4 linked regions of the Homo sapiens genome follow. The protein of the gene in region 4 purifies or fractionates together with the protein of the main gene of each other region. This does not show direct contact. Each region holds a gene or a part of one and is shown on either strand. Other genes may lie near its edges. The genes, in order: ANXA6, TF, IDH1 and GOT1.

Evidence for each region.
Region 1: the proteins of GOT1 (region 4) and ANXA6 fractionate together in Homo sapiens (co-fractionation; 2 studies listed by BioGRID). This does not show direct contact.
Region 2: the proteins of GOT1 (region 4) and TF purify together in Homo sapiens (affinity purification with mass spectrometry; 2 studies listed by BioGRID and IntAct, with this or other methods). This does not show direct contact.
Region 3: the proteins of GOT1 (region 4) and IDH1 fractionate together in Homo sapiens (co-fractionation; 2 studies listed by BioGRID). This does not show direct contact.

The regions. Positions count from the first base shown.
Region 1 is NC_000005.10:151,154,759-151,162,335, forward strand, and holds the start of ANXA6 (annexin A6), read right to left. Parts: upstream 3,022-7,577; 5' UTR 2,922-3,021; intron 1-2,921. UniProt on the Homo sapiens protein: May associate with CD21. May regulate the release of Ca(2+) from intracellular stores.
Region 2 is NC_000003.12:133,791,369-133,797,143, reverse strand, and holds the end of TF (serotransferrin isoform 1 precursor), read right to left. Parts: 3' UTR 503-5,775; downstream 1-502. UniProt on the Homo sapiens protein: Transferrins are iron binding transport proteins which can bind two Fe(3+) ions in association with the binding of an anion, usually bicarbonate.
Region 3 is NC_000002.12:208,238,063-208,245,088, forward strand, and holds part of IDH1 (isocitrate dehydrogenase [NADP] cytoplasmic), read right to left. Parts: intron 5,543-7,026; coding exon 5,365-5,542; intron 4,084-5,364; coding exon 3,932-4,083; intron 1,942-3,931; coding exon 1,801-1,941; intron 1,172-1,800; coding exon 1,009-1,171; intron 1-1,008. UniProt on the Homo sapiens protein: Catalyzes the NADP(+)-dependent oxidative decarboxylation of isocitrate (D-threo-isocitrate) to 2-ketoglutarate (2-oxoglutarate), which is required by other enzymes such as the phytanoyl-CoA dioxygenase.
Region 4 is NC_000010.11:99,427,615-99,435,507, forward strand, and holds the start of GOT1 (aspartate aminotransferase, cytoplasmic), read right to left. Parts: upstream 3,011-7,893; 5' UTR 2,952-3,010; coding exon 2,834-2,951; intron 1-2,833. UniProt on the Homo sapiens protein: Biosynthesis of L-glutamate from L-aspartate or L-cysteine. Important regulator of levels of glutamate, the major excitatory neurotransmitter of the vertebrate central nervous system. Acts as a scavenger of glutamate in brain neuroprotection.

The sequences.
Region 1 (7,577 bases), on a different chromosome or scaffold from region 4:
GCCTCAGGAGATCATCTCTCTGCCTCAGGATTGGAACTAGTCTAGCCTAGGTTTGAACCCCAGCTTGGGTCACTTTTGTGAGAGGCAGCAAAGTAGTGTCTCACAGTATAGATGCTGGAGCCAGACTGCCTGAGATTGAAGCCTGAGGGTGATATTTAGTAGCTGTGTGGTGTTGTGCAAGTATTGAGCCTCTCTGTGCCTGTTTCATATTAAAAAAAAAAAAAAGGGATAAAAATAGCACCTCCCTCATAGGAGTTATGATGAGGATAAAAAAAATTAAGACAAGTCTAGAGCTTAGAAGAGGACCTGGCACACAGGAAGCACTATATTTTATAAGCATTTGTCATTATTATTTCTTCCTTAAACTGTTAAGGGCTGGAGTTTCCATGTCTGCAAAATAGGCATTAATAACAGCGTCTAACATAGCAAGGCTTCAGCCGGGGCCTGGCAAATTTAAGGGTTCGAGAGGTAATAGTGGTTACCATTTTATTGCTATTATTTAAGGACCACCAGGACATGGATTTTTCAGAAGAGGAACTTGAGGCTCAGGTCGCCTGCCTTCTCAAGCACCACACCCTTTTGAGATAACACAGCACTTTTATATCTGCCATCTTACAGCCTCATGAAGGTATCGATCTCATTCTCATTTTGCAGATAGGCAGGACATCCAAGGAACCTATAGACAGTCACTCCCCCATAGCCAGTCTCTGTGGGGGCTTCTCAACTCCAGGAGGAAAGGGAGTGAGGCTGGATTCCAAGGCAAGTTTATAGGCATAAAGACACCCCTCCGACTTCCTCCCCTCTATTGGCAGGAGAAGGGGTGCATGCATGCTCAGGAATCACGGTAGAGACCACATCCTGTGCTTTGTCGCCACCCAGGAAGTATATCGGAGAGGCTGGGTGGGGTGAGGCTGGTGATTCCACTGGGCCTCCCCAGAAAATCCTAGAATGGTAGAGCAAAAGCCATTCAGACCCAACCCATTTTATTAATACCAGTGGGGTGTCCTGGGTATATGTCCTATCCCTGTAGAGAGGAAGGGGCTAAGCCCCAGAGGGGTAGTAGGTGTGCCCAGGGCGCCTAGCTGATTAGTGGCAGGGCAGGGGCTGGGTCCGAGGCTGGATCCTGGTGGCCCAGGGCTCCCTCTGGATGCTGCAGTGCGGATGTGCCAGTCACTGGCAGCTATCCAGCACTGCAGTCTCCCCCACTTCATCCCAGGAGTCAGTCTCAAGAGGCCAGGCCTTGGGCTTCCCTGGCCCCTCCTCTGCACACTCACATCTACATTTTGCCCCAGCAACAGCTGTGGCCCTTATCCAGAAACTGCAAGTATTTTCTGTATCTCAGCAGATGCTGCCTTAGGAACAAAGGGTAGATAAGGCAAAGAAAGATGGATGAGTGATTGTCACAGCTGCAGAGGGGGATGAAAGCCTCTGCCTCCTGCCCTCCCCAGTCCCATCCAACTCCCAGAATCCTAAATCTTAGAACAGTTGAATCCTAGAATGTCTGCACTGGCAGTGGCAGCCAGTTCAGCAGACTTTGCTCCAGATGGGGCACAAAGCCTTAGAGAAAGGGCTTGCTCAAGAAGTCCCAGCACATCCGGACTGTAACCGGGCTTTCCTCTGACCCCAGGCCAGTGCCCTCGGCGTGGCTCAGGGCCTGCCTGCTAGGAGGTCAGGGTCCACAGGGGCTGAAACTGGGGCGGTCATTCACTTCACCATGAAGGGCTACGCAGGTCAGGATATGCCATCTGGGTCAGTGGAAGCAATCCCAAGCATGTTTTGGGCAAGGGGGAAGGAATAATGGAGGGAAAAGGGCGGACTCTTGGGGGGAAACCAGAGTCCTTTCACAAACCCGGGAGCCATATGTCCAAATTTGGAATTGTCAGAGAAGACCCACTAGAATCTAGGGAAAGGAAGGAGGAGGCAGGAAGCCGTGGCCAGATTAGTTGTCCCAAAGGACCTCCTGCCCTTTCCCCTTGTAGGGCCTACAAGGGTTGTGCCAGGCTTCCCAAATCTATAATCAAGACTCCCAAACCTGCAATCATTCCATACAGCTGACAAATAAATCAGTTTTCAAAGCCATTGTTTCCTTTGAAAGAGACTGGGTTTCTCAACTATGGACTTGGAGAAGGAAATCCAGGCTCAGAGAGGGAAAGCCACCGCCCAAAGTCACACTGCAACAGGGGCTGGGATTCCGATTCAGGGTATTTTGCTCCCATGCTGGTATATGGGGAATTATTTGAAGCCCCCAAACTTTGGGAAGGCCTAGACCGCTTAGGGGATGCAGAAAGAAGGGTAGTGCCCCTGCCTCACCATAGGAGGCCTCGGAGCCCCGTTGGGAGACTGCATTCATAGACAAGCAGTGGCCCAAAGGGGATGGGGTCCAATGAGGCCCTGAGGTATGTACGACCGGACGTTCAGCTCTCTGCACGCAGGCAGCCCTCCCCCGACACCACACACAAGCCATTTTATAAGCAGCTGGAGGGTCCAACGCTCTTGCTCTCAGTCTTGGGCCTCAGCCACACCCTTCTCTGCGGGTCCTTTGACTGGCGTCCAGCTGACCCCAACCCCGGACCTTCAAAGTCTCTTGAGCCCCCCCAAATTAAGGCCGGCAGGACCAGCCCCTGGCTCAGCTCCGGCGCCCAGGACCCTCAACCAGACCCTCTGCAGCAACGGGACTCCCTCCCCTCCCCCTAGCCAGGGCGCCCTCCGCCCGCGCCTCTCCGCCCCGACCCCAGATTTGCTCCGCTGCGCTCCCCAGACACACCCAGTCTGCGACACTCTCGGGTTACCGCGCCCTCCCGTCCCTGCTCCTGGCGGGGGGTACCCATCAGCCGATGACTGGGCGCTTATTTCTTGTGTCCCTGCAGCCCCCGGGAAGGGGTTCCCAGAGCGACTCCCCTCTCCAGCCTCAGCCCACTCACCGCGCAGCGGAGGCCTCGGGTCGCAGACGGACGCACGGGCGCAGGGACTCGAGGACGCAGCGCTCGCTGGATCGGAGCCCGTTAGCCCAGCAGCAACCGCAGCGCGGGGCGGACCGGGAGGACAGCCGTGGGCTCCGAGCCGGACACGTGGCGCGCAGAGGCCAATCCGGCGCGCCCGCCTCCCTCCTCCACCCCACCCCTCTAGCTCCTTAGCTCTTGGAATCTTAGAATGTCACTAGCCCGAGGGGCTTGCCGGGAGAACCTCCTCAGTTTCCAGCCCCCGGATCTGAGACTGAGAAGGATTAGGGGCTTTGGCCAAGGTCACGCGGCCCTTCAGGGCTAGAAGTCAGGGCTCCTGACTCCGGGTTCTGGACACTTTCCCGCAAATTCTTATAAGTCGCCAAAGCTTTGTTGAGAAACAGAAAATTGAGGTTTGCCAGGGGCACTTTATCTGCCTGATCAGATTCCATGCCTCAACAGCCTCATTAGGTCGGTGACATTATTTACCCACTTTCAGGAGGAGAGCCCAGTCCAGTTCCTGGACCAAGGTCACACAAATAGTGGGTTGCGGAGGCAAGCTTCTTCGTGCTCTGGGAAGCAGGGAAGGCAGGCAGGGAGACCAGCAGTTGTAATCCAGCGCTAGAACAGGAAAAATTGATAAACTGAGAATACAGAGGAAACTGAGAATTATTGTCCCCAGGGGATTGGTAAGGAGAAGATGAGGAAGTTAGAAGAATTGGACAGATACCTGCGGAAAGTGTTCCAGGCAGAGGAAACTGCTGGAGCAAATGCTCCTAGCAGGAGGCCACCTGGCGCCTCCGAGGATCAGCAGGGGGGCCAGTGTGGCTGGAATGGAGTGAGTGGGAGGGAGAGGAGAGATAAGAGGGACCCAATCAGGTGGGACCTCCGGGGCCCTTGAAGGCACGCTGTCTTTTACTCTGAGTCAACTGGGGATCCATTGCAGGATATTGAGCAAAGAAAGGGTATTATTTTTGGGTAGATGAAATCCACACAACATAAAATTAACCATTTTAAAGTCAACAATTCAGTGGCATTTTGTACAGACACAATGTTGTGTATCCACCACCTCTATCTAGTTCCAAAATATTCTCTTCACGGAAAAATAAAACAGTATACCCACTGAGCAGTCACTCCTAACTTTCCCTTACCCCTCGTCTCTGGCAACCACCAATTTGCTTTCTGCTTCTGCGGATGTGCCTATTCTGGATATTTCATATACATGGAATCACATGAGATGCAACCCTTCTTGTCTGACTTCTTTCATGTGGCATTTTGTTTGTTTGTTTTTGTTGTTGTTTTTTCACTCTTGTCGCCCAGGCTGGAGTGCAGTGGCGTGATCTCTGCTCACCACAACTTCTGCCTCCTGGGTTCAAGCAATTCTCCTGCCTCAGCCTCCCGAGTAGTTGGGATTACAGGCATGCGCCACCACACCCAGCTAATTCTGTATTTTTAGTAGAGACGGGGTTTTTCCATGTTGGTCAGGTTGGTCTTGAACTCCCGACCTCAGGTGATCCACCTGCCTCGGCCTCCCAAAGTGCTGGGATTACAGGCGTGAGCCACCGTGCCTGGCCTCATGTGGCATGTTTTTGAAGTTCATCCACACTGTAGCATGTATCAGCACTCCATTCCTTTTTTTTTTTAGTTTCAGTTGGAGTTTTGCTCTTGTTGCCAAGGCTGGAGTGCAATGGCGTGATCTCGGCTCACTGCAACCTCCACCTCTCAGATTCAAGGAATTCTCCTGCCTCAGCCTTCCGAGCAGCTGGGATTACAGGCATGCACCACCACGTGTGGCTAATTTATTTTTGTATTTAGTAGAGATGGGGTTTTACCATGTTAGTTAGGCTGGTCTCGAACTCCTGACCTCAGGTGATCCACCCGCCTTTGCCTCCCAAAGTGCTGGGATTACAGGCATGCGCCACCGTGTCCGGTCCAGCACTCCATTCCTTTTAATGGCTGAATAATTTTCCGTTGTATAAGTACACTATAATTTGTTTATCCATCCATCTGTTGATGGATAGTGCATTGTTTCCCCCTTTTGCTGATTGTGAATAGTGCTGCTAATGAACATTTGCATACAAATACTTATTTGAGTACCTGTTTTCAATTGTCGTTGTGTATTTACCTAGGAATGAAACTGCTGGGTCATATAGTAATTCTACATTTAAGTTTTTGAGGAACTGCCAAACATTTTTTCAGAGTGGCTGCAACATTTTATATTCCCATCAGCCATGTCATGTATGAGGCTTTTAATTTCTCCATGTCCTTGCCAACACTTGTATTTTATTTTTTAAAAATTTGTACCCGGCCAGGCACAGTGGCTCATGCCTGTAATGCCAGTACTTTGGGAGGGCCGAGGTGGGTGAATTGCTTGAGCCCACGAGTTTGAGACCAGCCTGGACAACATGACGAAACCGCATCTCTACAAAAAATTAACCAGGGGTAGTGGCACATGCCTGCAATCCCAGCTACTGGAGAGGCTGAGGTGGGATGATCCCTTGAAGCTGGAAGGTAGAGGCTGCAGTGAGCCGTGATTGCACCACTGCACTCCAGCCTGGGCGACAGAGTGAGAACTTGTCTCAAAAAAACAAAAGTACAAAAAACTTGTGCTCTAGTCATTATGAAATGGCATCTATAATTGTGTTTTTGATTTGCATTTCCCTTCTGACTAATGATGTGGAGTATCTTTTTTGTGTGCTCATTGGCCACTATTTGTACATCTTCTTTGGAAAAATATCTAATCATGCTTTTTGCTCATTTTTAAATTGGATTTTTTGTCTTTTTTGTTGTTAAGTTATATGAGTTCTTTTTATATTCTGGATAAGACTTTTGTGTTTGTTTGAGACAGAGGCTCGTTCTGTTGCCCAGGCTGGAGTGCAGTGGTGCCATGTCGGCTCACTGCAACCTTCACCTCGTGGGTTCAAGCAATTCTTTCCGCCTCAGCCTCCCAAATAGCTGGGATTACAGGCACCTGCTACCATGCCCAGTTAATTTTTGTATTTTTTTAGTAGAGACGGGGATTCATCATGTTGGCCAGGTTGGTCTTGAACTCCTGACCTCAGGTGATCCACCTGCCTTGGCCTCCCAAAGTGCTGGGATTACAGGTGTGAGCCACCGCACCTGGCCAAGACATATTTTTTAAAGGGTCACTGAAGTCTCCTGTGTTGGAAATACTGAATACTGTTGGGGGAAGAGTAGAAGAAGGGGATCTGCTAGGAGATTTTGCAGTAATCCAGGCAAGAGACAGGCTGGTATAAATGCAGGTGGGGGAAGTGGTTGGAGATGGGATGTATTTGAAGGTTGAACATGATTTCCGAAGGATCAGGTGGGAGATGAGAAAGAGTCAAGAATGGCTTCAGGGATCCTGGCCTGAGCCACTGGAAGGATGGAGTTACCATCAACTGAAATGAGCAAGACTGCAGGGAAAGCAATTTTGGGAATTAGAAGTGGGGAAAAGATCAGGAGTTCAGTTTTTGACCAGTTTGTTGAACATTTCTATTAGACACCCAACAGGAGATGTCAAGTACGCAGTTGGCTAGTCAAGTCTGGAGTTCAAGAGATGAGATCCTTAAGGGAGAAGAGAACTAAATATGGAGTCCTAGTTCGGCAAAAGGAGTCAGGCTGGCAGGACCAAGGGAAAGCAAAAAGAGAAAGCAGATAAGCTATAAGTCTGCCTTTCTTCATGGCCCAGGATGCATAGCCCTCCTGTGCGAATAACTCACAATCTTATCTGCGCCCAGCTATTGCCAGACCCTCACCTGATAGAAAAATGCACGCAAGCTCCCTGCACCCTTGATGTTATCAGTACTGCACAAAGCCCTCTTCAGCACACAGCACAAGCACCATCCTATAAAATCCTTAGCCAGATTTTGTTTTCTTGCAGTTAGCTTCTGTTTTGCTAACTTGCCCGTTGCACCCTTGCAACGTATTTTCTTTTCTTTTCTGTTTTTCTTTTGAGATGAAGTCTCACTCTGTCGCCCAGACTGTAGTGCAGTGGCACTATCTCGACTCACCACAACCTCCGCCTCCCGGGTTCAAGCGATTCTTCTGCCTTAGGCTCCTGAGTAGCTGGGATTACAGGTGCGTGCCACCACACCTGGCTAATATTTGTATTTTTAGTAGAGATGGGTTTTCACCATGTTGATCAGGCTGGTCTCAAACTCCTGACCTCGTGATCCACCTCGGCTTCCCAAAGTGCTGGGATTATAGGCATGAGCCACCACGTCTGGCAGCAATGTATTTTCATACTTTCTCTAATAAATCTGCCTTTCTTTACCTACAACTGCCTTGGTAAATTCTTCTTACTGCCTGTACCGCCAGCCCCAAATAGTTGCTGATCACCCACGATGCTAAGGACCGAGTCTGAGACACTCTTATGTTACCATTTGGGGAGAGGCCGGACCCGGTGGCTCATGCCTGTAATTCCAGCACTTTGGGAGGCTGAGGTGGGTGGATCACTTGAGGCCAGGAGTTCAAGACCAGCCTGACCAACATAGTTAAACCCCATCTCTACTAAAAATACAAAAAGTTAGCTGGACGTGGTGGTGCATGCTGTAATCCCAGCTACTTGGGAGGCTGAGGCAGGAGAATCACTCCCAGGAGGTGGAGATTGCAGTGAGATGGCACCATTGCACTCCA
Region 2 (5,775 bases), on a different chromosome or scaffold from region 4:
AATTAGGACACCATCCAATGTTATGCAATTGGGATCATACAGTATGTATCATGCTTTTTCACACATCATGAATATTTACCAATTCAAAATTCCAAAGCTATGTAAATGTTTGTTTGTATACACAGCAAAGTAAAAGGAAATGCAGATATAAGGGACAACAGTCAATTGTGTCATACTGTAAACACACTGATATAAAGCCCTTTGCACTTTCTTCTGCTCCTTCCTCCCTGAATCAGCATAAATATAATGTGAAGTGGTTTGATCAATTTCCAAAAGACAATGTTTCATATGAATCAAAAGGATATCTACAAAATGTGTTATTTACTACCTCTACTTTTAACATACTGTGTGCACTTCTAAACATCTAGAAGACTAGATGTTTCAAATAAGGACTTAATTTTGTCCACTATATGTCCAGTAGTGTTACTACTGGAGGGTGTCCAGGTTCTTGGCTTCTTGAACAAATAATTGGACAAAATGCACAAACAAAGCAAGGAAAGAATGAAGCAACAAAAGCAGAGGTTTATTGAAAACAAAAGTACACTCCACAGGGTGGCAGAGGGCTTGAGCATAGGGGCTCAATAGCCCGGTTACAGAATTTTCTGGGGTTTAAATACCCTCTAGAGGTTTCCATTGGTTACTCAGTGTATGCCCTATGTAAATACAGAAGACATTTCCCATCATAGCTGAAGTGTTTCCATTTGATTTAGTTCTAGGAAGTGAGCATGCATCTGCCTTATATTCCTTGCCTACAGACCCTATTCTTCTGCCTCATTTCCCTCCAGAGATGGGATCCCCATAAATCTTTATGGGAGGTGGAGGGGCCGATGGTCTTTCTTTTGTAACTGCTTCATGTTGGCTTGAGGCCTAGTCCCTACCTATTGAGGATCACAGAAGTCCTGCTCTGCTCTTTCTAGTGAAGGCAGGGTAGCTCCTTGATGGCCAGGGGTGGTGGAACTGGATGAAACTTTTGTTGCATGATCATCTGAAGCTTGATGGTCTTTTGGCGAGAGGAAATTAATTTGGTTAAAAGATTTAATGGGAACTCAGGGGGTGGATATCTATGCTGTCAGGAATGTTTGTTATAGAGATTTGTAGGAGAAAAACAAAACCTGGCCTGTGGTCTGTTCTAGGATCTATGTGTTTCCTTAAGGTCTTGGCATACGTGACTCCGTTTTGGTTTAGTTTGGTCTGTTGGGGCCTGGCGCATGGGCTCAGTACAAAAAAATGACCTCCCATAATTTTGTTTAAAAAAAATTCCCCTTTTTGGCCAGGTGCAGTGGCTCACGCCTGTTATCCCAGCACTTTGGGAGGCCGAGGTGGGCAGATCATGAGGTTAGGAGATCGAGACCATCCTGGCTAACATGGTGAAACCCCGTCTCCACTAAAAATACAAAAAAATTAGCCGGGCGTGGTGGCAGGTGCCTGTAGTCCCAGCTACTCGGGAGGCTGAGACAGAAAAATGGCGTGAACCCGGGAAGTGGAGCTTGCAGTGAGCCGAGATCGTGCCACTGCACTCCAGCCCGGGTGACAGAGTGAGACTCCATCTCAAAAAAAAAAAAAAAAAAAAAAATTCCACTTTTTTGGTCAGGTTCTCACTTAAGTGAGAGTGTGACCAAAACTTAGGGCCTTACTTAGCACCACTCTCAGTTACCAACACTTTGGGCTTTTGGACTCAGCACATCATTCGTAGGTTACAGTGTCCTCATGGCTGCAATTTCTTTCAGCTCTTGTCATTCCAGTTGAAGAGAGGCCATTTGACATTCTAGAGGTGGCAGCATGCAAACATTTAAAACCGTTGAGAGAATACAGCACACCAGGGAGACTATTATTATGACTATCAGGAGGATAATACCAAGAGTTGAGAGTAAGTATGCTCCTTATCCAGGGTCACCATAAACCAAACCTCCTAAACTCAAATAGATTAAACAATGAGCTAAAGAGTCTACTCACTTAACTAAGCAGTCTCTTCATTAATTTGCTACAACTGAATCTCTATAATACCTGATGTTTTCTCCATAGGCCATGAGTGCCAGCAGCTGCACAGATACTCTTCTGTTTAGCCAACTCTATTATTTAGCATAACTTTCTTAAGATAATTTAGTCTATTATGTAACCATAGCCTTTACAGTAAACTGCTATGGAGCCTATTATGAGGGATACATTTGCCTCTTTTATTCCAAATCATGGAAAAAGGACCTAAAGCTGGCTGCAAAATTCTTCACAAATAAAAGTATAACCCATAATTGTACACAACAGATCCTTTTTCCACTTCTATTCTTCATAGAGGCAAAAGCAAGGAAAAAATATTCAAAGATAAGAGTCTCATGATAATAGAGAAGTCTTGATTCATGATCTTGGGAAAAGCTGTTCACATCAAGGATGCCATCTTCTTCGGGAGAGAAACTTCCCTGGTTAGCTTTACCTTAAGGGTTCCAATGGGTGTACAGTTCCAAGAGTGTGGAGGGACTCTTCTCAGTTGTGAGATCATGAACCCAAAGTTCAAAGTCCAGAAGTTTTGCTGTAGTGTGGATGGCAAGGACAGTCTTTATCCAATGTTTTCAGAAGATACAATCTTCAGTTTCTAGGTTGTGAAGGAGTTGATTGTCCTCAGTGAACCATAAAAAGCTTTCTTTACCTTGTGAAAATACTTGGTGGCATAATAACTTAGTGTTATAACATCAGCCCTCTTGCATGGGAAAGCTTTTATACAACCAGAAAACATGCACTGAAAATAACAATTGAATAAAATCCCTCTATAAAATGTTTAAATGGCCTATCAGGTGACTGGATGTACCTGAAGCTTTGATTGTTTTCCCAGGAATATGGGACCAAACATTGGTTATAAACTATTTTAGCAATTTATAAGTCACCACATCAATATATTCAATTTGGATCATTTTATCTTTTCCGTGACGAGTCATGTAATGCAGAAATTTTACTAACAAAAGCTTTAACGACTTAGGAAGGACAAGGTGGCCATCCTGGTTCTCCATGAGTTCATGCTTAATTAACATTAGACTCATATCCTCTTGAATACCAGTTGTTTCCCCAAATTAGGTGCATAACACTGATAACTGATGGGTTATCATAGGTAATTTGATTTAAATGATGGAGTTTATTCAAATTTTATATCTAAACAGTTTCAGTATCAGCTGATTTAGCATGAAAATCTGGCAAAGTATTTTCTTGGTATTTAATTAATTTTTGTTCTACTTGGGTTAGCAGTTTTAGAACTCAGTCAGTCTTTTCATTAAAGTTCCAGGAATTCTTACCCAGTTCAAATGATATAATTCTAAACTTATTAGAAACCTGTATTCAAGAGTGCTTTTTAGGGTCCTTTCCAATCTTTCATGAATCTCCTAAAAGACACCATATTCTAGGACTTTGCATGCTTGTGAAGTTTTCAGAAACTGCATCAGCATTAAGCAATTAACTGTGGAAATGACTTTAAATAGTTATAGTTAAAAACACAATTGACAAGGAAATTTGGTTATTTCTGTGGTCTACAATAACATAATAATCATAATTATGATTGATAGCATATACTCAGACATATTGGAATTTTAGAAATCTCATACAATTTTGGAACATATATTAATATTATTCACTAAAATATAACCTGAAGAAGATTAAATTTTTTTCTTTTTGACAATGCTTCCCATGTAATTAAACATGTCAAATAATTCTGTTTACCTCTCTTTTGGATGCTTCAGGGGCCCTCTGCAGCATCTCAAAGTTAGAGGTTAGAAAAGACAATTTTGAAGCTGAAATTTGATTTTGGGAAGCCTATTAAATATGTTAAAGATTTAAAACACTTGACATTATGAAATGGAATTCCAGGTTACCATAGTCATTCATTTAGCAAAATGATGACTCAAAAATGTTTTAAAAGGCAAAAACCTTTCCATGTTGATAGATGGAAGACTTACTTTACAAACAATCTGTCTCTTGTCTTTCCCTTCCTTTTTTTTGGTGGGGGGGTAGTTTATTCAAAAGGCAAACAAAGATCTTTCATTATCTTTTAATACTGCATGAAAATCTTGTTCAAGAGAGAAAGCCAAATTTCACCCTTGCATTAGTGTGCTATTAATGTCAACCCCAATTTTTAAGAAAACCTTGTAGACATATCTTTCCAATCTTAATCCGTTTGACCATAAGGTGAGATTCTCATAAACCTTTTATAATCCTTTACAAATGTTTGTTAAAGAGCAGATCGGTGCTTTAAGAAAACCCTGTTTGTGCTTTTATTTTGATGTTCAATTTATGGAAAAACCAGAAAATACCCCTTTAAATTTAGTCAATATGTTCACACACATAATTTTTTACAATATTAATTTTTATAAATCTTCCACAACTCATTCAAACTTTTAGCTTTATCCTAACTTAAAACAATCCTTTAACCCTTTAGACAGAAAAAAAAATCTACATTCCCATGCCTTGTTATAATCTTTCACTGAAAATGCATTCACTTTTCTTACGTAACTTGCATGTAAAACTGTTGCTTCAGTAGTCTCACTTACATGTTACAATGTTAACTCTTAGCGAGTTTTACTTTTGGTGAAAACTTTGGTAAGTTAAGGATTTTAATTATATATTAGTTGTGGAGTCTAGGACCCAGAGAGAAGTACACTTAAGGTCTGACTCCAGCATCTGACTCCACGTGTCTCAGGCCTTACCGAGCTGTAAAGCAGGCAAGTTGTAGAGTTAAGAGTCATAGTGGCATTTTATGAAGCATTTAGGAGGTCTAATCACCGTTAAATTGTATATTTCTTGCATAAATTCTCTTTTGTAAATTATTTCATGACTTACACAGACCATCTACGACATGCTTTGACTTTCTAACTTGTCCTAAACATCCCTCTTTTTTAACAACCGCTTATTTTACTTTAGGACACGAATTTACGATATAAGATCCTTTCTTATATAAAATCTCCTTTCTTTATAACCTTCTTTGCATAGCTAGGGGACATGGCTAATTCTATTTGTCCCCAGGCCTTATCTAGAATCTAATGCTCCAAAATAAATTGAGCAATTTTTAAAAGTCAAAGAAGCGGTTTATGACCTTAAAGCATTTTGCAAATCTAATATCTGACCTGCATAATTTAGACTAAATATTTACATTTTGAAGATATTTTTATTTTACCAATAATCTTTAAAACTGTCTTTATTTCCCAAAGATTACTTAAGTTACATGAAGTAAATAGAAGGCATTACATTTTTTACTTTTCTGATAAAATATTTGATTTAAGCTCTTATTATTATTAAGCTAATTAATTAATGCTCTTTTATAGTACACACACAACACATATAAATACACAGACAGAAGATAAAGGACTCATTCCCTAAGCCAGGAATTGAACCCTAAACCCAGGCTGCCACTGTGAAAAGAGAAAGCATGGCCACATGGTTACAAGGTCAAGCTCCCAAAGACATGACTGACCAGTCTGCTGGTGTGTCTTGAACAGCAGGTCTATGGGGTCCTAAGCACACATTTTATTCTAAGGTACCCCTCTTTATGACAAAACAATACAGAAAGACACAAAGCACACCAGATTCACTACAGCTTAAGATCGGCCTCAGAATTCTTTTTTTATATTAATCAAAACTTTACAGAGGAGATAAACAGTGACTTTTACTATTCATTTATGCAGTTTGCACAGAGAGACAGAGACCAGAGTCTGGCTGGTAAGAAATTCTTACCCTTTTGCCAGTATGCCAGGTTTCTGGGTTCTGTCTCCCAAAGCAGCCCTAGGAACCCTGCTTGACTATATG
Region 3 (7,026 bases), on a different chromosome or scaffold from region 4:
TCTCGCTCTGTCACGCAGGCTGGAGTGCAGTGGCACCATCTCGGCTCACTGCAAGCTCCGCCTCCCAGGTTCACGCCATTCTCCTGCCTCAGCCTCCCGAGTAGCTGGGACTACAGGTGCCCGCCACCACGCCTGGTTAATTTTTTGTATTTTTAGTGGAGATGGGGTTTCACTGTGTTAGCCAGGATGGTCTTGATCTCCTGACCTCGTGATCCACCCACCTCGGCCTCCCAAAGTGCTAGGATTACAGGCATGAGCCACAGCACCCAGCGAACACTGCAATCTTGTTGGAAATTTAAATTAAGAAACATGCAGTGACCAAGTATATCCCCATTATGGGGTATACTGACCCTACCTGGGACCTCTGCAGATGCACTGGTTGAGATATGGAGACAATCCCCCCAGGATACTGGCTACTATGTTCTCAGAAAAATTCTCAGTAAACATATGGGCTGTCAAATATTTGCCCAAATATTGGTTACAGATACTTAAGGGACTGTAATCAATTGCACACCTTAAACTTGTGCTGCTCACTTTTCTCATCAGTAAGTTAAAGAAAATAAAGGAGTAGAATAAAATAGCCTCTGAAGTATCTTTGTTTCTATTTGTCTATAATCTGCTTCTTAAAATTAAATAGAACCTTTTCGTTCAATGATTATCAACTAGATGGGATGTCAGCAAATTACAGCCCAGCACATGAACCAAATCGAGGCTGGTTTTGAACATAAAAGTTTGATTGGTACCAGCCACACCATTTGATTCTGTATTGTCTATGACTGCTTTCCTGCTACAATGGCAGAGGCAAAGTTGAATAGTTGTGTAGTTGCAAAAAGACTATATGTTCCACAAAGCCTAAAATGTTCACTATCTGACAATTTACAGATATCTGCTGACTCCTGAACTAGATGATGAATAACAATTTATATAATTCCAGAAAGCACCGATGCTCTGAGCCCAGTGAGGATAAGTGTTAATTTGACCATAGAAACTAGGGCATCTTATACTTACTTGGGTAAACCTTTAATGCAAGCAGCCAAGTCCTTGGTCATGAAGCCAGCCTCAATTGTCTCAATAGAGACTTCTTCCAAAGCATTTGCAAAGAAGGCAAGCTCTTTATTGTTATCAAGCTTTGCTCTGTGGGCTAACCCTCTGGTCCAGGCAAAAATGGAAGCTAAAAGAGGGGAAAAAAAACACAACACTCCAATCATCCTAGTTATAGAGGTTTCCAAATGTCTCATAGTTCCCCAAAACAGAATAGTTTTTTGTTTAGGTGACAGACTTCTTTAGATACTAACCACATGGGCTAGAAGTTTTAGGAGAGTTAGAAATATTTTACCAAACAGAAACTTTAAAAAAACACATTTTCATGGCATGGTACTAGTGTTTGAAACTTAAGGCATTTTCTAATTTGAAAAAGGTCACAATCTCTTCTATCTCTTGTCTATATTGGTCTCCTTTTTCCAGGCTGTAATCTCTTTTTGAAGTGCTATCTTTGAAACTTGTTAAAAGGATCTATCCATGTGACTTTTAGATTTGTAGCCTTATGTGACATTTCACTGCACCAGAGGTAAAGGAAAATGCTTGTTGATAACATTCCTCTCTGTAACCTATGTTCTCCCACAAAACAGAAAAGCAAATATTGTATATTTTAAGAAGCATATTCAAATAGATCTTACTAGTAGAACAAATCAGCTACTTGGTGATGACTTTGCACACAAAACACTGAGCAGCCAAGGGAACACATCTGGGCTGCTTTGGAGAGCACTCTCTGGTGAGAAATCAATGTAAACACCATCTTACCAATGGGATTGGTGGACGTCTCCTGTCCTTTCTGGTACATGCGGTAGTGACGGGTTACAGTCCCGTGGGCAGCCTCTGCTTCTACTGTCTTGCCATCTGGACAAACCAGCACGCTGGTCATCATGCCGAGAGAGCCATACCCTGTAAGTAGTGGAGCATGAAGCGTTGGGTCCAACTGCATGAAGAGCACTGAGTCTCTCAGAGATGAGAGCATAAATGACTCAATCTTGATAGGTCTTGGTAAGCAAAGTAAACAAGAGCACATGGAATCACCAATAATTCTGCCTTTCAGAAGGCAGGATCCCCGCTCCAGATATCAGAGCCAATGGGTCTGGAAAGGCTGCATTTTCCCCTCACTTATTTCAGGGATACCTACTCCTTGATGGAGGGTTCAGGGTCCAACTGCCTACATTCCACTCTAGTTCTATGACTTCATAGCTACTGCGGCTCAGTTTTCTTATCTGTAAAATGGGAGTAATAACAGCACCTACTTCACTAGGTTGCTGTGGGATTAGATAAATATACATATATTCATAAATATATATGAATATATATTTATATTCCTTAGAATAGTACTGGACACAGAGCTCAATCTATTATTGTTATTCTTATGTGCAATGCTCTGCTGTTCTGGGGAAATAAAGATGGACGAGAGCTGTCTCTTAAGAACCCTCAAGCTGCTCATACACTTGCTGGGACTGGGAAGAGAAGGCAGGTAAACACAGGATCGGTTGGATCTAAGAACATCCCAGTTGCCCTTCCTCGCTCTCTTTCATACCCTCAGTACAACAGTTCTCTTCTGTGGTTTCTTATTGAAAGAACCACATTACAACTCTTATATCTATATAATTGATTTTCTTCTTTTCTCCATTTTTGCTACCTCCCAACATCACCTGTGAAGTTAATAATCAACCACGGAGTCATCACAAAGCAATAACACTCCTTCCTCTGTTGCATTCAGTACAAATGATTGTGAGGATGTAGAGAAACAGAAGGATGGTAAGGAGAGTTGTGTAACTCATTTATCTGGCAAAAAGTTATCTTTAACCAGGTTGATCTACTGATTTTCAAACTGAGAGGAGATGTTTAACACTGATAAGAGACAGAAAAAGTAGTACTTCTTGGGAAAAACAAACATAATTAAAGTTAACAAACATTCATCTGGGGAGATTCAAGTTCATACAGCTACCAAGGGCAACTGAAACTGAAGGGCAACTTGGTGCTGAGGAAACCAGGCGCTGTGTTTCTGTTGATTTGGCCCTTACCCCATGCATGAAACTTCTCCTGGAATTTCTGTAAACAGCCCCTAGGGTTCTTTGCTCAATTGATTTGTGTGTAAGCTAAGCAGTAAACAAAAACACTTTTTCTTTGTTGTTGTTGAGACAAGAGTCTTGCTCTGTTGCCCAGGCTGGAGTATAGTGGCGTGATCTCAGCTCACTGCAACCTCCGCTTCCCAGGCTCAAGAAATTCTCATGCTTTAGCCTCCTGAGTGCCAGGGACTATAGGCATGCGACCACACCTGGCTAATTTTTTTTTTTTTTTTTTTTTGAAGTAGAGATGGGGTTTTGCTATGTTGGCCAGGCTGGTCTTGAACTCCTGGCCTCAAGTGATCCACTGCCTTGGCCTCTCAAAGTGCTAGGATTACAGGCGTGAGCCACTGTGCCCAGCCAAACACATTTGTTTTATATTCTACCAGAACAGCAGCTGGCAGAGGGACATGAGTAGGTCCTGCTGCCCAATAAATGAGCTTTGCAGGCACCAAAGCTTGGTTATGACATGATCAAGCTCCTCACTTTATCCCTCCTTGCCTGAGTGCCCTGGTTTTTTACATTTTCACCAAAGGACAAGGAGGGCAGGGAAAGGGAGTGATTTTCAGATCAGGTAGGCTTTAAAACTTCAAGGAGTGACACTGGAGCCAGGAGTGTCAATCCACTAATTTACTTCCCATGTGGTCTTGAGTAAATCATTTCTCTAGTCTGAGCTTAATTTCCTTAGCTGTCAGGTAAGACGGTGGACCTGGAGGTTTAACATTCCAAGATTTTACAACAAAGGACTACAAAACTCCCCTTCCCAAATTAGAGAACTACCCTGGAATGACCCTGTTCCTACAGGCCAGGCTCCACCTCTGTACCTTGGGCCACAGAGTCCGACTGCACGTCACCATCATAGTTTTTACAGGCCCAGATGAAGCCTCCCTCTGATTTCATAGCTTGGGCCACCATGTCGTCGATGAGCCTATGCTCATACCAGATCTTTTGAGCTTCAAACTGGGACTTGTACTGCCTGGGAAACAAAAGGTAAAAGAGAATAATAATAAAGAAAATTGATTTTGTTAGGGATATCATCTGCTTGTCCCAAACAGAAGACCGGACACACAAGAAGCAGCATATTTTAGTAGAAGTAGCAGAAACTCAGGAATCTGACAGACATTGGCTCAAATCCTAGCCCAATCATTTTCTAACTGTAAAACTCAATTTGACTATCTGTAGGAACAATTTTACCCACCTTGCAGGGAAGCCGTGAGAATTAAGTGAGACAGTAGAGTATCCCAATGACTACTTCACTTTTCAGTTTTCATTATACTATAGATCAGATTCTTGAGATTCAGCTTATTTTTAAAATACATTTTTGAAAAGACTGTTCTACTTCTTGGTGTCATTCAGGAAACTAAAATATATTCCAGACAGTTTCTGGGCTTGGTATAGATGGGCAGCAGGAGGAGGAATCAAAATGCCTCAGGAACATTTTGGCCTGAACACTTGCACCTAAAGGGAGTTATGCCAATCTTAAATATTAACACATGCTCACCTCCTGTGCTGTGGAAGCCAGTGTTGTTATAAACTTAGACTTAAGTTCAAATGACTCCACTAAAACAGAATTTTAAATTCTTTTTTTTCTTTTCTTTTCTTTTTTTTTTTTTGAGACGGAGTCTCGCTCTGTCGCCCAGGCTGCAGTGCAGTGGCGTGATTTCGGCTCACTGCAACCTCCGCCTCCCGGGTTCACGCCATTCTCCTGCCTCAGCCTCCCCAGTAACTGGGACTAGAGGCGCCCGCCACCACGCCCGGCTAATTTTTGGTATTTTTAGTAGAGTCAGGGTTTCACCGTGTTAGCCAGGATGGTCTCGATCTCCTGACCTCGTGATCCGCCCGCCTCGGCCTCCCAAAGTGCTGGGATTACAGGCATGAGCCACCGTGCCTGGCCAACAGAATTTTAAATTCTAACAATGGGCTTCAGAAAGAATGGAAATGGGTCTGACTTAGAAACTCACACATGAAAAATTAGAACTTATCACTAACAGCGTACGTTTATTTAAACATTAAAGAACCTGGCTCTGAAAACAATTCATGTGGGGACCTTATTTAAGAACATGTTTATCTTATAAAAGCAAGTCAGAGTGGTTTTGTTTCACTCCTGCTAAACCTCAGTTTTGCCCTTATCTTTAAGAGACAGTGATGATTTTCACTCAATTTACCCAGAATCATAGGGATAGGGAGATACATACTCTATATGCAAATGTCAGCTTACTTGAGAATAAAGAAAAAGTTAAAAAAGAACTATAGTTACTTGTCATATATCTCCTGAAAGATGTCTTTAAAACGCCCATCATATTTCTTCAGAATAGTGTTTTTGGTGCTCAGATACAAAGGCCAACCCTTAGACAGAGCCATTTGGAAGGAACTGTGTGCAAAATCTTCAATTGACTTATCTTGATTATACATCCCCATGGCAACACCACCACCTTCTGTAGAGGAGAAGCCAGTGAGAGGAAAAAAGGGAGAAGAATAAATGTAATGTAGTTGTAATAAGGCTAAAATCACCCACCACAACCAAATGACCTACTTCTCAGCTCTCACATCTGAGACTAGATTTCAGAAGTCCCAGACAGGTTTCCAACAAATTTCTGAGGCACATAATGAGAGAAAAGCCAGTTCTAGATAAGGACATTCTAACTTGTTTTGGAAGGACAGCAGAAATGAAAAAACATACAGTCTTTAAAATCCTGAAGATGCAGAAATGCCAAAAACTGATATGAACCAGAAATACATTTAAGAAAAGGCAAATAATTTTGAAACTTCTTTTACATACTGATATGGTTTGGATATTTGTCCCTTCCAAATCTCATGTTGAAATGTGATTCCCAGTGTTGGAGGTGGGGCCCAGTGGGAGGAGATTGGAACATGGGGTTGGATCCCTTATGAATGGCTTAGGACCATCCCCTTTGGTGATTACGTGAGTTCTCGCTCAGTTAATTCACTTGAAATCTGGTTGTTTAAGAGTCTGGGACCTCCCCCTTCTCTTTCTCTTGTTCCCGCTCTTGCCATGTGATACACCTATTGTCTGTTTGCCTTCTGCCAAGATTGGAAGCTTCCTGAGGCCCTCACCAGGAACAGGTGTTGGAGCCAGGCTTGTACAGCCTGCAGAACCATGAGCCAATTAAACCTCTTTTCTTTATAACTTACGCAGCCTCAGGTATTTCTTTATAGCAACGCAAGAATGGACAAACACCCTACCTTTACAATTCCCAACATCTATTTTAAACTTTAGGGGTGTACTCAATCCTCAGTTATTGAGAAAAACTTAAATTTCAAATACTGAATGAAAATTCTTATAATCTCCTGGAGGATACTGAGCACTCCTACTGTAGTTGGTAGAAATAAGTAGAAATAATTATGCTACATGTAATCACTGTGTTTTACAACTATTATTGAACTTTGTTATTACTTAAAGATAGAACTTGAATCCATGCCAATGCTCAGGGTTAACTTGGGTTCAGGGTGAAAGGTGCTGAAGCCTGCAGAACCAGATTCCAACAGATATTATTTGGAAGAGGCAAGAAAAACAAAAGGTAGGTGAGTGTTGGGTATTTTTGTTTGTGTGAGTGCTTTCAACAACTTCAATAGTGAAGGAAAAGGGCCCACTAATTATTTCAACAACTTTTGGGTGGGATTTGCCATCAAAGGTAGCAGGGTAGCTGGGAAAGAAAAGGCAAAAAGCAAATGTTCTACTTTTTCACAGGATAAATACCCAGAAGGGCAAGAAGAAAACTTCAGCAAATATATAAGGAAACCTCTTCCAGATACAAGAGCCCTACCAGAGCAAAGGGCAGGATTATATGCTGGGTGATTTGAGAATATTAATATTTAATGTATATAATTCATGCACAGCAGATTTCTGCCAACCTTCTCTCTGTGCTTTAAGATAAATGCATAATCATCTCCTTGTCTT
Region 4 (7,893 bases):
TGGCTCCTCATTTAACAGATGAGCCCCAGGGATGTTAAACAACCCTTCCAAGTCACATGGCTGGACCACGGTGCTGGGCCTGTACCTAGGTCTCCTGGCTCTTCCCACTACAGTGTACTGGCTACCACCTGGAGGTACCTGAAATACAGGTGTGGGCAGAGACTCTGAGGCCTGAGAGACCTGGCCTGGATTCCCAGCTCTACCACCCAGTGGTCAAATGACCTGGGGCAAATTGCTTCACCTCTCCAGTCTTCGGCTTCCTTGCCTCTAAACAGTAATAGTAATAAACCACCCTCCAGAGTTGTGAGCATTCAGTGAGATTACATGCATAAATAATTTGCTCATGGTAAGGAGTTGGAGTTCCTGGAAAACATGACAAAGGCACCTTCACAGCTGAGGTGGCCGTCTGAGTCAATGACTCCAATTCTGAGTCCATTGCTTCTGGCCTGTGCTGTCGGGGTGCTTTTTCTCTGCAGGAGCAGTTTATTTCTGAACCAAGGTCATAAATTAGTTCATTTTGCAGTTCTTGAACTGAAAATTTTTATTCAATATCTTTTATGAGAATCACTCAAAGAAATGCCAAAACAACAATAACAGTAATACCTAACACTTATATAAATCCTACTTATGTGCCAAATACAGCTATAAACACTTTAAATGTACTTAATCCTCACAGAAACCCTGTAAGATAGTTCAAAGGTAAATTGAATTAATAAAATAAATCTGACGTGGTTTTTTGTTTTTTTTTTTCTTTCTTTCTTGAGACGGAGTCTCACTCTGTTACCCAGGCTGGAGTACAATGGCGTGATCTTGGCTCACTGCAACCGCCACCTCCCAGGTTCAAGCGATTCTCCTGCTTCAGCCTCCCAAGTAGCTGTGACTACCAGTGTGCACCACCACGTCTGGCTAATTTTTGTATTTTTAGTAAAGATGGGGTTTCACCATGTTAGCCAGGCTGGTCTCGAACTCCTGACCTCAGGTGATCCACCTGCCTTGGCCTCCCAAAGTGCTGGGATTACAGGCGTGAGCCACCGTGGCAGGCAAAATCTGACGTTTTAAAAAGATGTATTTAGATTGACAGTAATACTAGTTCTTTGTATACATCCCGCTGCAAAGAAACGCTTGGAGGTTTTGGACTGGTTTTAAATTAAGAGACCAAATGGTGTCCATTCAAATTCAATTTGAGGCAATCTTTCAACATTTCTCCCACTCAGTTGCCTGCTAAAAACATCATTTTCCCTCAATGGGCCAAACTATGTAGTACTGACTTATCTTAAAAGCTTTATGATGAAAAATTTCAAACCTATACAAAAGCTGAGAGAATAATATAACGTATGCCCATGTACCCATCATCCAGCTTCAACAAATTACCCGCTTCAACAAACCATCACTTTTCAATGGATTTTTCCTTACCCCTCCCCATACTCCTTAGTGAAGACTTTTTTTTTTTTTTGAGAAAGAGTCTCGCTCTGTCGCCCAGCCTGGAGTGCAATGGCACGATCTCGGCTCACTGCAACCTCCGTCTCCCGGGTTTAAGCAATTCTTCTGCCTCAGCCTCCCGAGTACCTGGGACTATAGGCGGCCAACACCACGCCCGGATACTTTTTTGTATTTTTAGTAGAGATGGGGTTTCACCGTGTTAGCCACGATGGTCTCATCTCCTGACCTCGTGATCCGCCCGTCTCAGCCTCCCAAAGTGCTGGGATTACAGGCCTGAGCCACCGCGCCCGGCCGACTTTTTTTTTTTTTTTTTAACAAATGCTATGCACAGACAAAACGTTATCTATGAGAAACCTGATTCTGAGCGTCCTTCATGTCACACTCTGCTACAAAATGATTCCACCTTCTCTTTCCACAATTTCTAGTCCTTTTATTCTAAGTCTATTACCTAGCATAAGACTTTATCCTACCCATTTTCATCTCTCTGGCTGGTCTTTGCACGTGGCAAAATCCAAATGGAGAAAATAAGTGTCTGTGGGGCTTCAAACATCCAAATGATAGTGAGAAGAATAACAAATTCATCAGAGAGGGTTAGGGGTAAAAAATTTGAGAGGCACTCCAATATAAATCTTCTTGGCAGATGGGGAAACTGAGGCCCATGCTCTGAGCTGTCCAAGGTACAGAAGAGAATCACTTGAATCAAGAAATGAAGATAGGATGTGTGGAAAGTAAGCTTCTACCATCCATACTTCTCTCCACTCCTTTCCACCATCTCTACCCATTCCTACCACATCTGTGACGGCCAGAACCATCTCCCCAGACCCCCCGGGGGCAGCATTAACCTGTCTCAAAGCATTGTGTAACACCAGCAGATTTTTAAATCCTTAAGGGCAAAATCAAGCCTCAGTCTCCCCCTACAAAGCTTAATAAGGTGGCTGATTGATACTCGGTGGTCACTCAAATATTTACCGACTCAGAACAGAGCTTTCTAGCGTTAAAAGTTCTCCTTTACCCATTTCCTAGCAACCAGAACCCTAAGCCTATCAGGCTTCCTATTTTTCTACCTCTCTCTACAAGCTCCGGCAGCCTCATTTCTTAGGAGGATGCAGTATAAAGAAGGCAGAATGGGGAATCGGAAAGACTGAGTTTGTGTCTTGGCTGCTACACCTGGTTTGTGCGGCCTCGGACACATCGCCCCTTTCCAGGGACTCCACACCTGCATCTGTAAAATGGGCAGGTTTTAGGAAGCCTTCGTGGATCCAGCCTCCTCTCCGGCGCCGCCCTCTTCAGGCAGCGCCACACTGGGCCTCGGCTTCTCCCACAGTCTCCACGACCTGGGTTGGGTCCGCTCCACTCCCCGAGCTGCTCACACTCCAGAGCACTACATCCTTACCTCCCACTCCCAGGTTGACCTTGCGGGGGTCCGGATCCTCCCTGAAGTCGGCAGTGAGCTTGAAGACCAGGACAGGCTGGGCCTGCGGAACCTCGGCAAAGACTGACGGAGGTGCCATATCGAGAGACTAGGAATCAAGAGATTTCACCCCACGCCCGGAGCTGGCAGGTCAGGTCTGGCCGTTGCGACTGGAGGAGACACTCACCTTCACCTAGCCGGCGGGGGCGGGCCCGCGGCCTCCAATGGTCGAGCCGCGTCCAAAGCTTGGCAACGCGATTAACCAATCGCCAGCTTCTGACGACGAAGGCACAGGGGAGAAGGAACGCTATTAGCCAATCCAAGAAAACAATTTATCGGCTGCCGAGAATGATGCAACCAATGCAATTTCCTCCGGCTGAGGCGTGGGCGAAGACTACGGTTGATTGGTAGAGCGTGCTCCTATCGCAGAGGCTGTTATTCCTTGGGTCTCCCGGCTGAGGGGAGGAGCCGAGCGAGCGGCGGGTGTCCCTGAGAGGCCACCTTTCGACCTTCGAGGGCCAGGAGGATACGGGGAGGTGGCCGGAGGGAGTTCCCGAACACAGGTCTTCCTGTTCCCGCCGAGCAGGTGTTGGCGGTGCCAGGCCCGGCCTGGCGGGCCCGGGCTGGCAGCCAAATACCCAGCGTCTGTGCTCGGGACGGGAGTGTTCGTCCAGGACGTGCAGCTCCGGAGCCTGCGCGGGCGACCTTGACCACCTTTGTCGGCTGTTTCCCCCTGAGGGAAGTATACCTGTCCTGCCAGCCTTGGTCTCTGGCAGGGAAGGTCCTTCCAACAGAGAGGGGTGCGCACGAATTCCTTTTTGCCGCTCTTCTATTAATAGTTTGAGATTTTCCTCCCCGATTCCTTGCAGAGAGGGCCTGGTCCTCAAGGACCTCGGGATCTGGGCGCGACGTCCCTTCCCAGCTTCCTCCCGCGCGCACCGGACCAGATCTTGCTGTCGTCAGCTGGCTGGTACCCAAAGTTCCTCTTCGTCAGGCTGTTCCTTCCCCGTTAGAGTCCTTCCTCCCCAGGAGCCCTCTCCATCTGCTGACCTTCAAGACCCAGAGCGAATGCCACTTCATCCATGAAGCCTTCCCTTAACCCTTATCTGGCCAAAATGTCTCTTTCCTGTGCTTCTGTACTTTCACAATTTTAGAAAATGCCTTTGTGGTTAAAAACCTATCTCCGGGACCGGACTATCTAGGTTTAGATTCTGGCTGCCGCTTACGAATTTGGGCAGGTTTAGTCAAGTTATTTTAACCTCTCTGTGGAAGTTCCTGCTCTGTGGAAATAATAGTATTTTCCTCAGAGTTGGTGTGGGGAGTTTGTGAGTTAATACATTTACGAAGTGGTTAGTTGCATGTAAGAAGGACTCTCTAAATGTCAGCTATTATTAACATTGCATATCTGCCACACCCTTCATAGATGGTAAACTGCTTTTTTTTTTTTTTTTACTTTTATTTTAGGTTCGGGATACATGCACAGGTTTGTTTTATAGATAAATTGCTTGTCATGTGGGTTTGTTGTACAAATTATTTTGTCACCCAGATAGTAAGCATAGTACTTGACAGGTATTTTTTCTGATCCTCTCCCTCCTCCCACCCTCTAGCCTCAAGTAGGTCCCAGTGTCTGTTGTTCTCTTCTTTGTGTCCATGTGTTCTCAATGTTTAGCTCCCACTTACAAGTCAGAACATGCAGTATTTGGTTTTCTCTTCCGCATTAGTTCACTTAGGATAAAGGCCTCCAGCTCCATCCATGTTGCTACAAAGGACATGATCTCTTTCTTTTTTATGGCTGCATAGTAGTCCATGGTGTATATGTACCGTATTTTCTTCAGTCTACTGGTGATGGGCATTTAGGTTGATGCCATGTCTTTACGATTGTGAATAGTGCTGCAGTGAACATACATGTACATATATCTTTATGGTAGAATGATTTATATTCTTTTGGGTATAGACCCAATACTGGGATTGTTGGGTCGAATGGTAATTCTGTTTTAAGTTCTTTGAGAAATCGCCACACTGCTTTCCGCGGTTACTGAACTAATTTACATTCCCACCAGCATTGTATAAGCATTCCCTTTTCTCCACAACCTCACCAGAAACCAGCATCTGTTATTTCTTGACTTTTATTAATAGCCATTCTGACTGGTGTGAGATGATATCTCATTGTAGTTTTGATTTGGGTTTCTCTAGTGATTAGTGATGTTGAGTATTTTATATGCTTGTTGGCCATGTAGCTTCTTTTGGCTAGGGACCTGTGAGTCTCCCTAGGTTTCTTGCACTTACTAAGCCTTCAACAAATGGTAGAAGAGTCAATTCTCTTGGTGTTTCAGAAGAAAACAATATCACAGCCCCTCTCCACTGGATAATACTATAAATCTTAAAATGAATTTTCATTCAGAGTAATAAACACAAGCCAAAGAACTTTGTATAACATCCGTCAACTTTTTGTGTTATCTATTTCTTTTCCAAAACATTGCCTCTGGTTTTAAAGGTAACTGCCCACAGTGTTTCACTAATAACATTTTAAGCATTACAAGTTCAACACTGAAGGTCAAATGACAACGAACTTTCAGTGCTTCCAAAAGCAGGGGCAGAGGGCAACTGCTGAGGGGGGCATTGTATAGCCTAACCTTCCCAGAATTTGATTTAAAAGTATGATCTTCACAGCGTTGGCCAGCAATATCATGGTCACTCCCTACGTCATTCCCTGGGAGAAAAACAACCCTAGGTTACCTAAACAATGTTGGCGAAGACCAAATATTTATTAACATCCTAAGCCGCCCCATAATCAAGCCAATGCTGATAGGGACAAAGAAGGTGCCATGTGCAGTTTTTCTCCATGTCCCCACAATATCTGCTCTGAATTTTAAAAGGCAATTACTGGGGGAGAAGGAAGCCTATATATTATGTAGGATCCAAGTCTCAAACTGCTTTCCTAGGGAGTGTGAGGTTCTTGGAGATTAAGTGCAGTACCTTTCTGTCTTGAGCCTTGTAGGCTGCCCCTCTAATTTAATGCCAGTCTTGAAATAAACAGAATGCTTTCCAAGTCATCGCTAATTTTAACACTTTAAATTTAGAATTGCTTAGAATTGACTCAACACTGCCTCCTTGCTGAATGGATAATTCAAGCAAACAACTCAAGAGCTGGATGCTGCCCAGACAGGTAGGCAGCCAGATAAAGTGAGTGTCCAGGGAAAGAGCAGTAAGGGTCAGAAGAGAAAGAGCCTGGTGTTCTCACTGCCTCCTGCCTTCCTTATGACTGTCTGTTCAGAAGTCCTCCTAGCATCTTTCTTCTGCCTTCCCCTGCTCCTGTCCCTGAAACCTTTTCTTCAAAAGAAGTGGAAAAGAGGAACTGGGAACCCATATAGCAACAGCATCACCTGGAATGAATTCCTTTAGAACATACTGTCTTGGAAATCTGAAGCCTGCAGGGCTGGACAGGCAAGAAGAGCAGTGAGCACTGCATGAACCTGTAAGTAAATCTGCATGTGGATGGTGTTTTGGGTTTTTTTCAGACAGAGCCTTACTCTGTTGCATAGGCTGGAGTGCAGTGGCACGATCTTGGCTCACTGCAACCTCTGCCTCCTGGGCTCAGGTGATTGTCCCACCTCAACCTCTCAAGTAGCTGGGACCACAGGTGTGCACCAACATGCGCAGCTAATTTTTGTAGAGATGGGGTTTCGCCGTGTTGGCCAAGCTGGTCTCGAACTCCTGGGCCAAGCAATCGGCCTCCCAAAGTGTTGAGATTACAGGCGTGAGCTACTGCACCAGGCCACACATGCTTATTTTACTCAGTCTTGCCCCTGAATACCCGAAGGTCTAAACTTAGGAAAAAGTCAGGGGAGGGATGAGTTTGTCATTCTTTGGAGTCGTTATATTTGGGTGAGTGCTGGCACTATGGGTAGGATATTATTTAGAAGCTGAGTTGTGTGCTGAGCAAATGTTTCTTTAAAAACCAAAGCCGTATGAGATCTGTTATAGAGGCACAGTGTGGCTAAATAGTGTGCGATAAGATAAGCATAGGGCTCCTGAGGTGTTGCTGTTCTCCCACTGTAATGAGTTTACTCTTCTTCCTAAGGAAAGTGATCCTTTATCACCTCTCCTCTCAAATTCACTGGCTTGTTTCGTGAGTGTGCCTTCATGGAATCATGTCTCCTTCTCTTCCCTCAGTTCTCTCCTTCCCTCCCTTACGTATGACTCCTCCCATAATCCGCACACATGGATTGAACCAAGTGAGGGTATTTTTCTGTTTCCTACCTCATAGAAGGGCATAGAGTGGACACGGTCTAAGGTTAGTTCCTGAACTGAGTACCCACATATGCAGAACTTTATTTAAAGCTGCTGAAATCTTTGTATAACAGATAGATCAATAGGACTGAAAACTACTGATGGTTTTACTTACTTGTTGAACGTGACTAAGTTCCATGGCACCATTTAGAAATTGTGTTGTATAGTTTTCGTATGTTGCTTAAGAAACAGTTTAGCATAATGGTTAAAAGCATGGCCTCTGGAACTAGATTGCCTCTGTATGCCTCAGTTTCCTCATCTGGGAATAATAATAGTTCTACCTCATGGGATTGCTATGAGGATTAAATGATTTAATTTAATTAAATGATTTCATACAAAACTGAATTGTACTTGACACTTAGTACTCAGGTATTAACTGGGACCGTTATTATCATCACAGATGTTGTTTACAAGCACTTGCCTTTGAGATTTGTTTAGCTTTTTTATTAAATTACTAGCGGTATACTAGAACAGTACGTAGGCTGGGGCCTGGAGTCAAATTCTAGCTTTGCCTCTTATAGTTTTGAAACTTTGAGTAAATTACTTGATGTGTCTGAGTTTTAATATTCTTATATGTAATTTACTTTTAAAAAGAATTTTGCTTAGTGTTGATATACACACATTTAACACAGTTATAGAAATTATTGTTTTTACTATTGTCATATGAGGAAATTCGTCCCTGGGTTGCTGTAGGGTGCTAATGGTTAGGCAAACTCTCTTTGAAGTCTGCCTGATCTGGCCCCTTGCAGGCA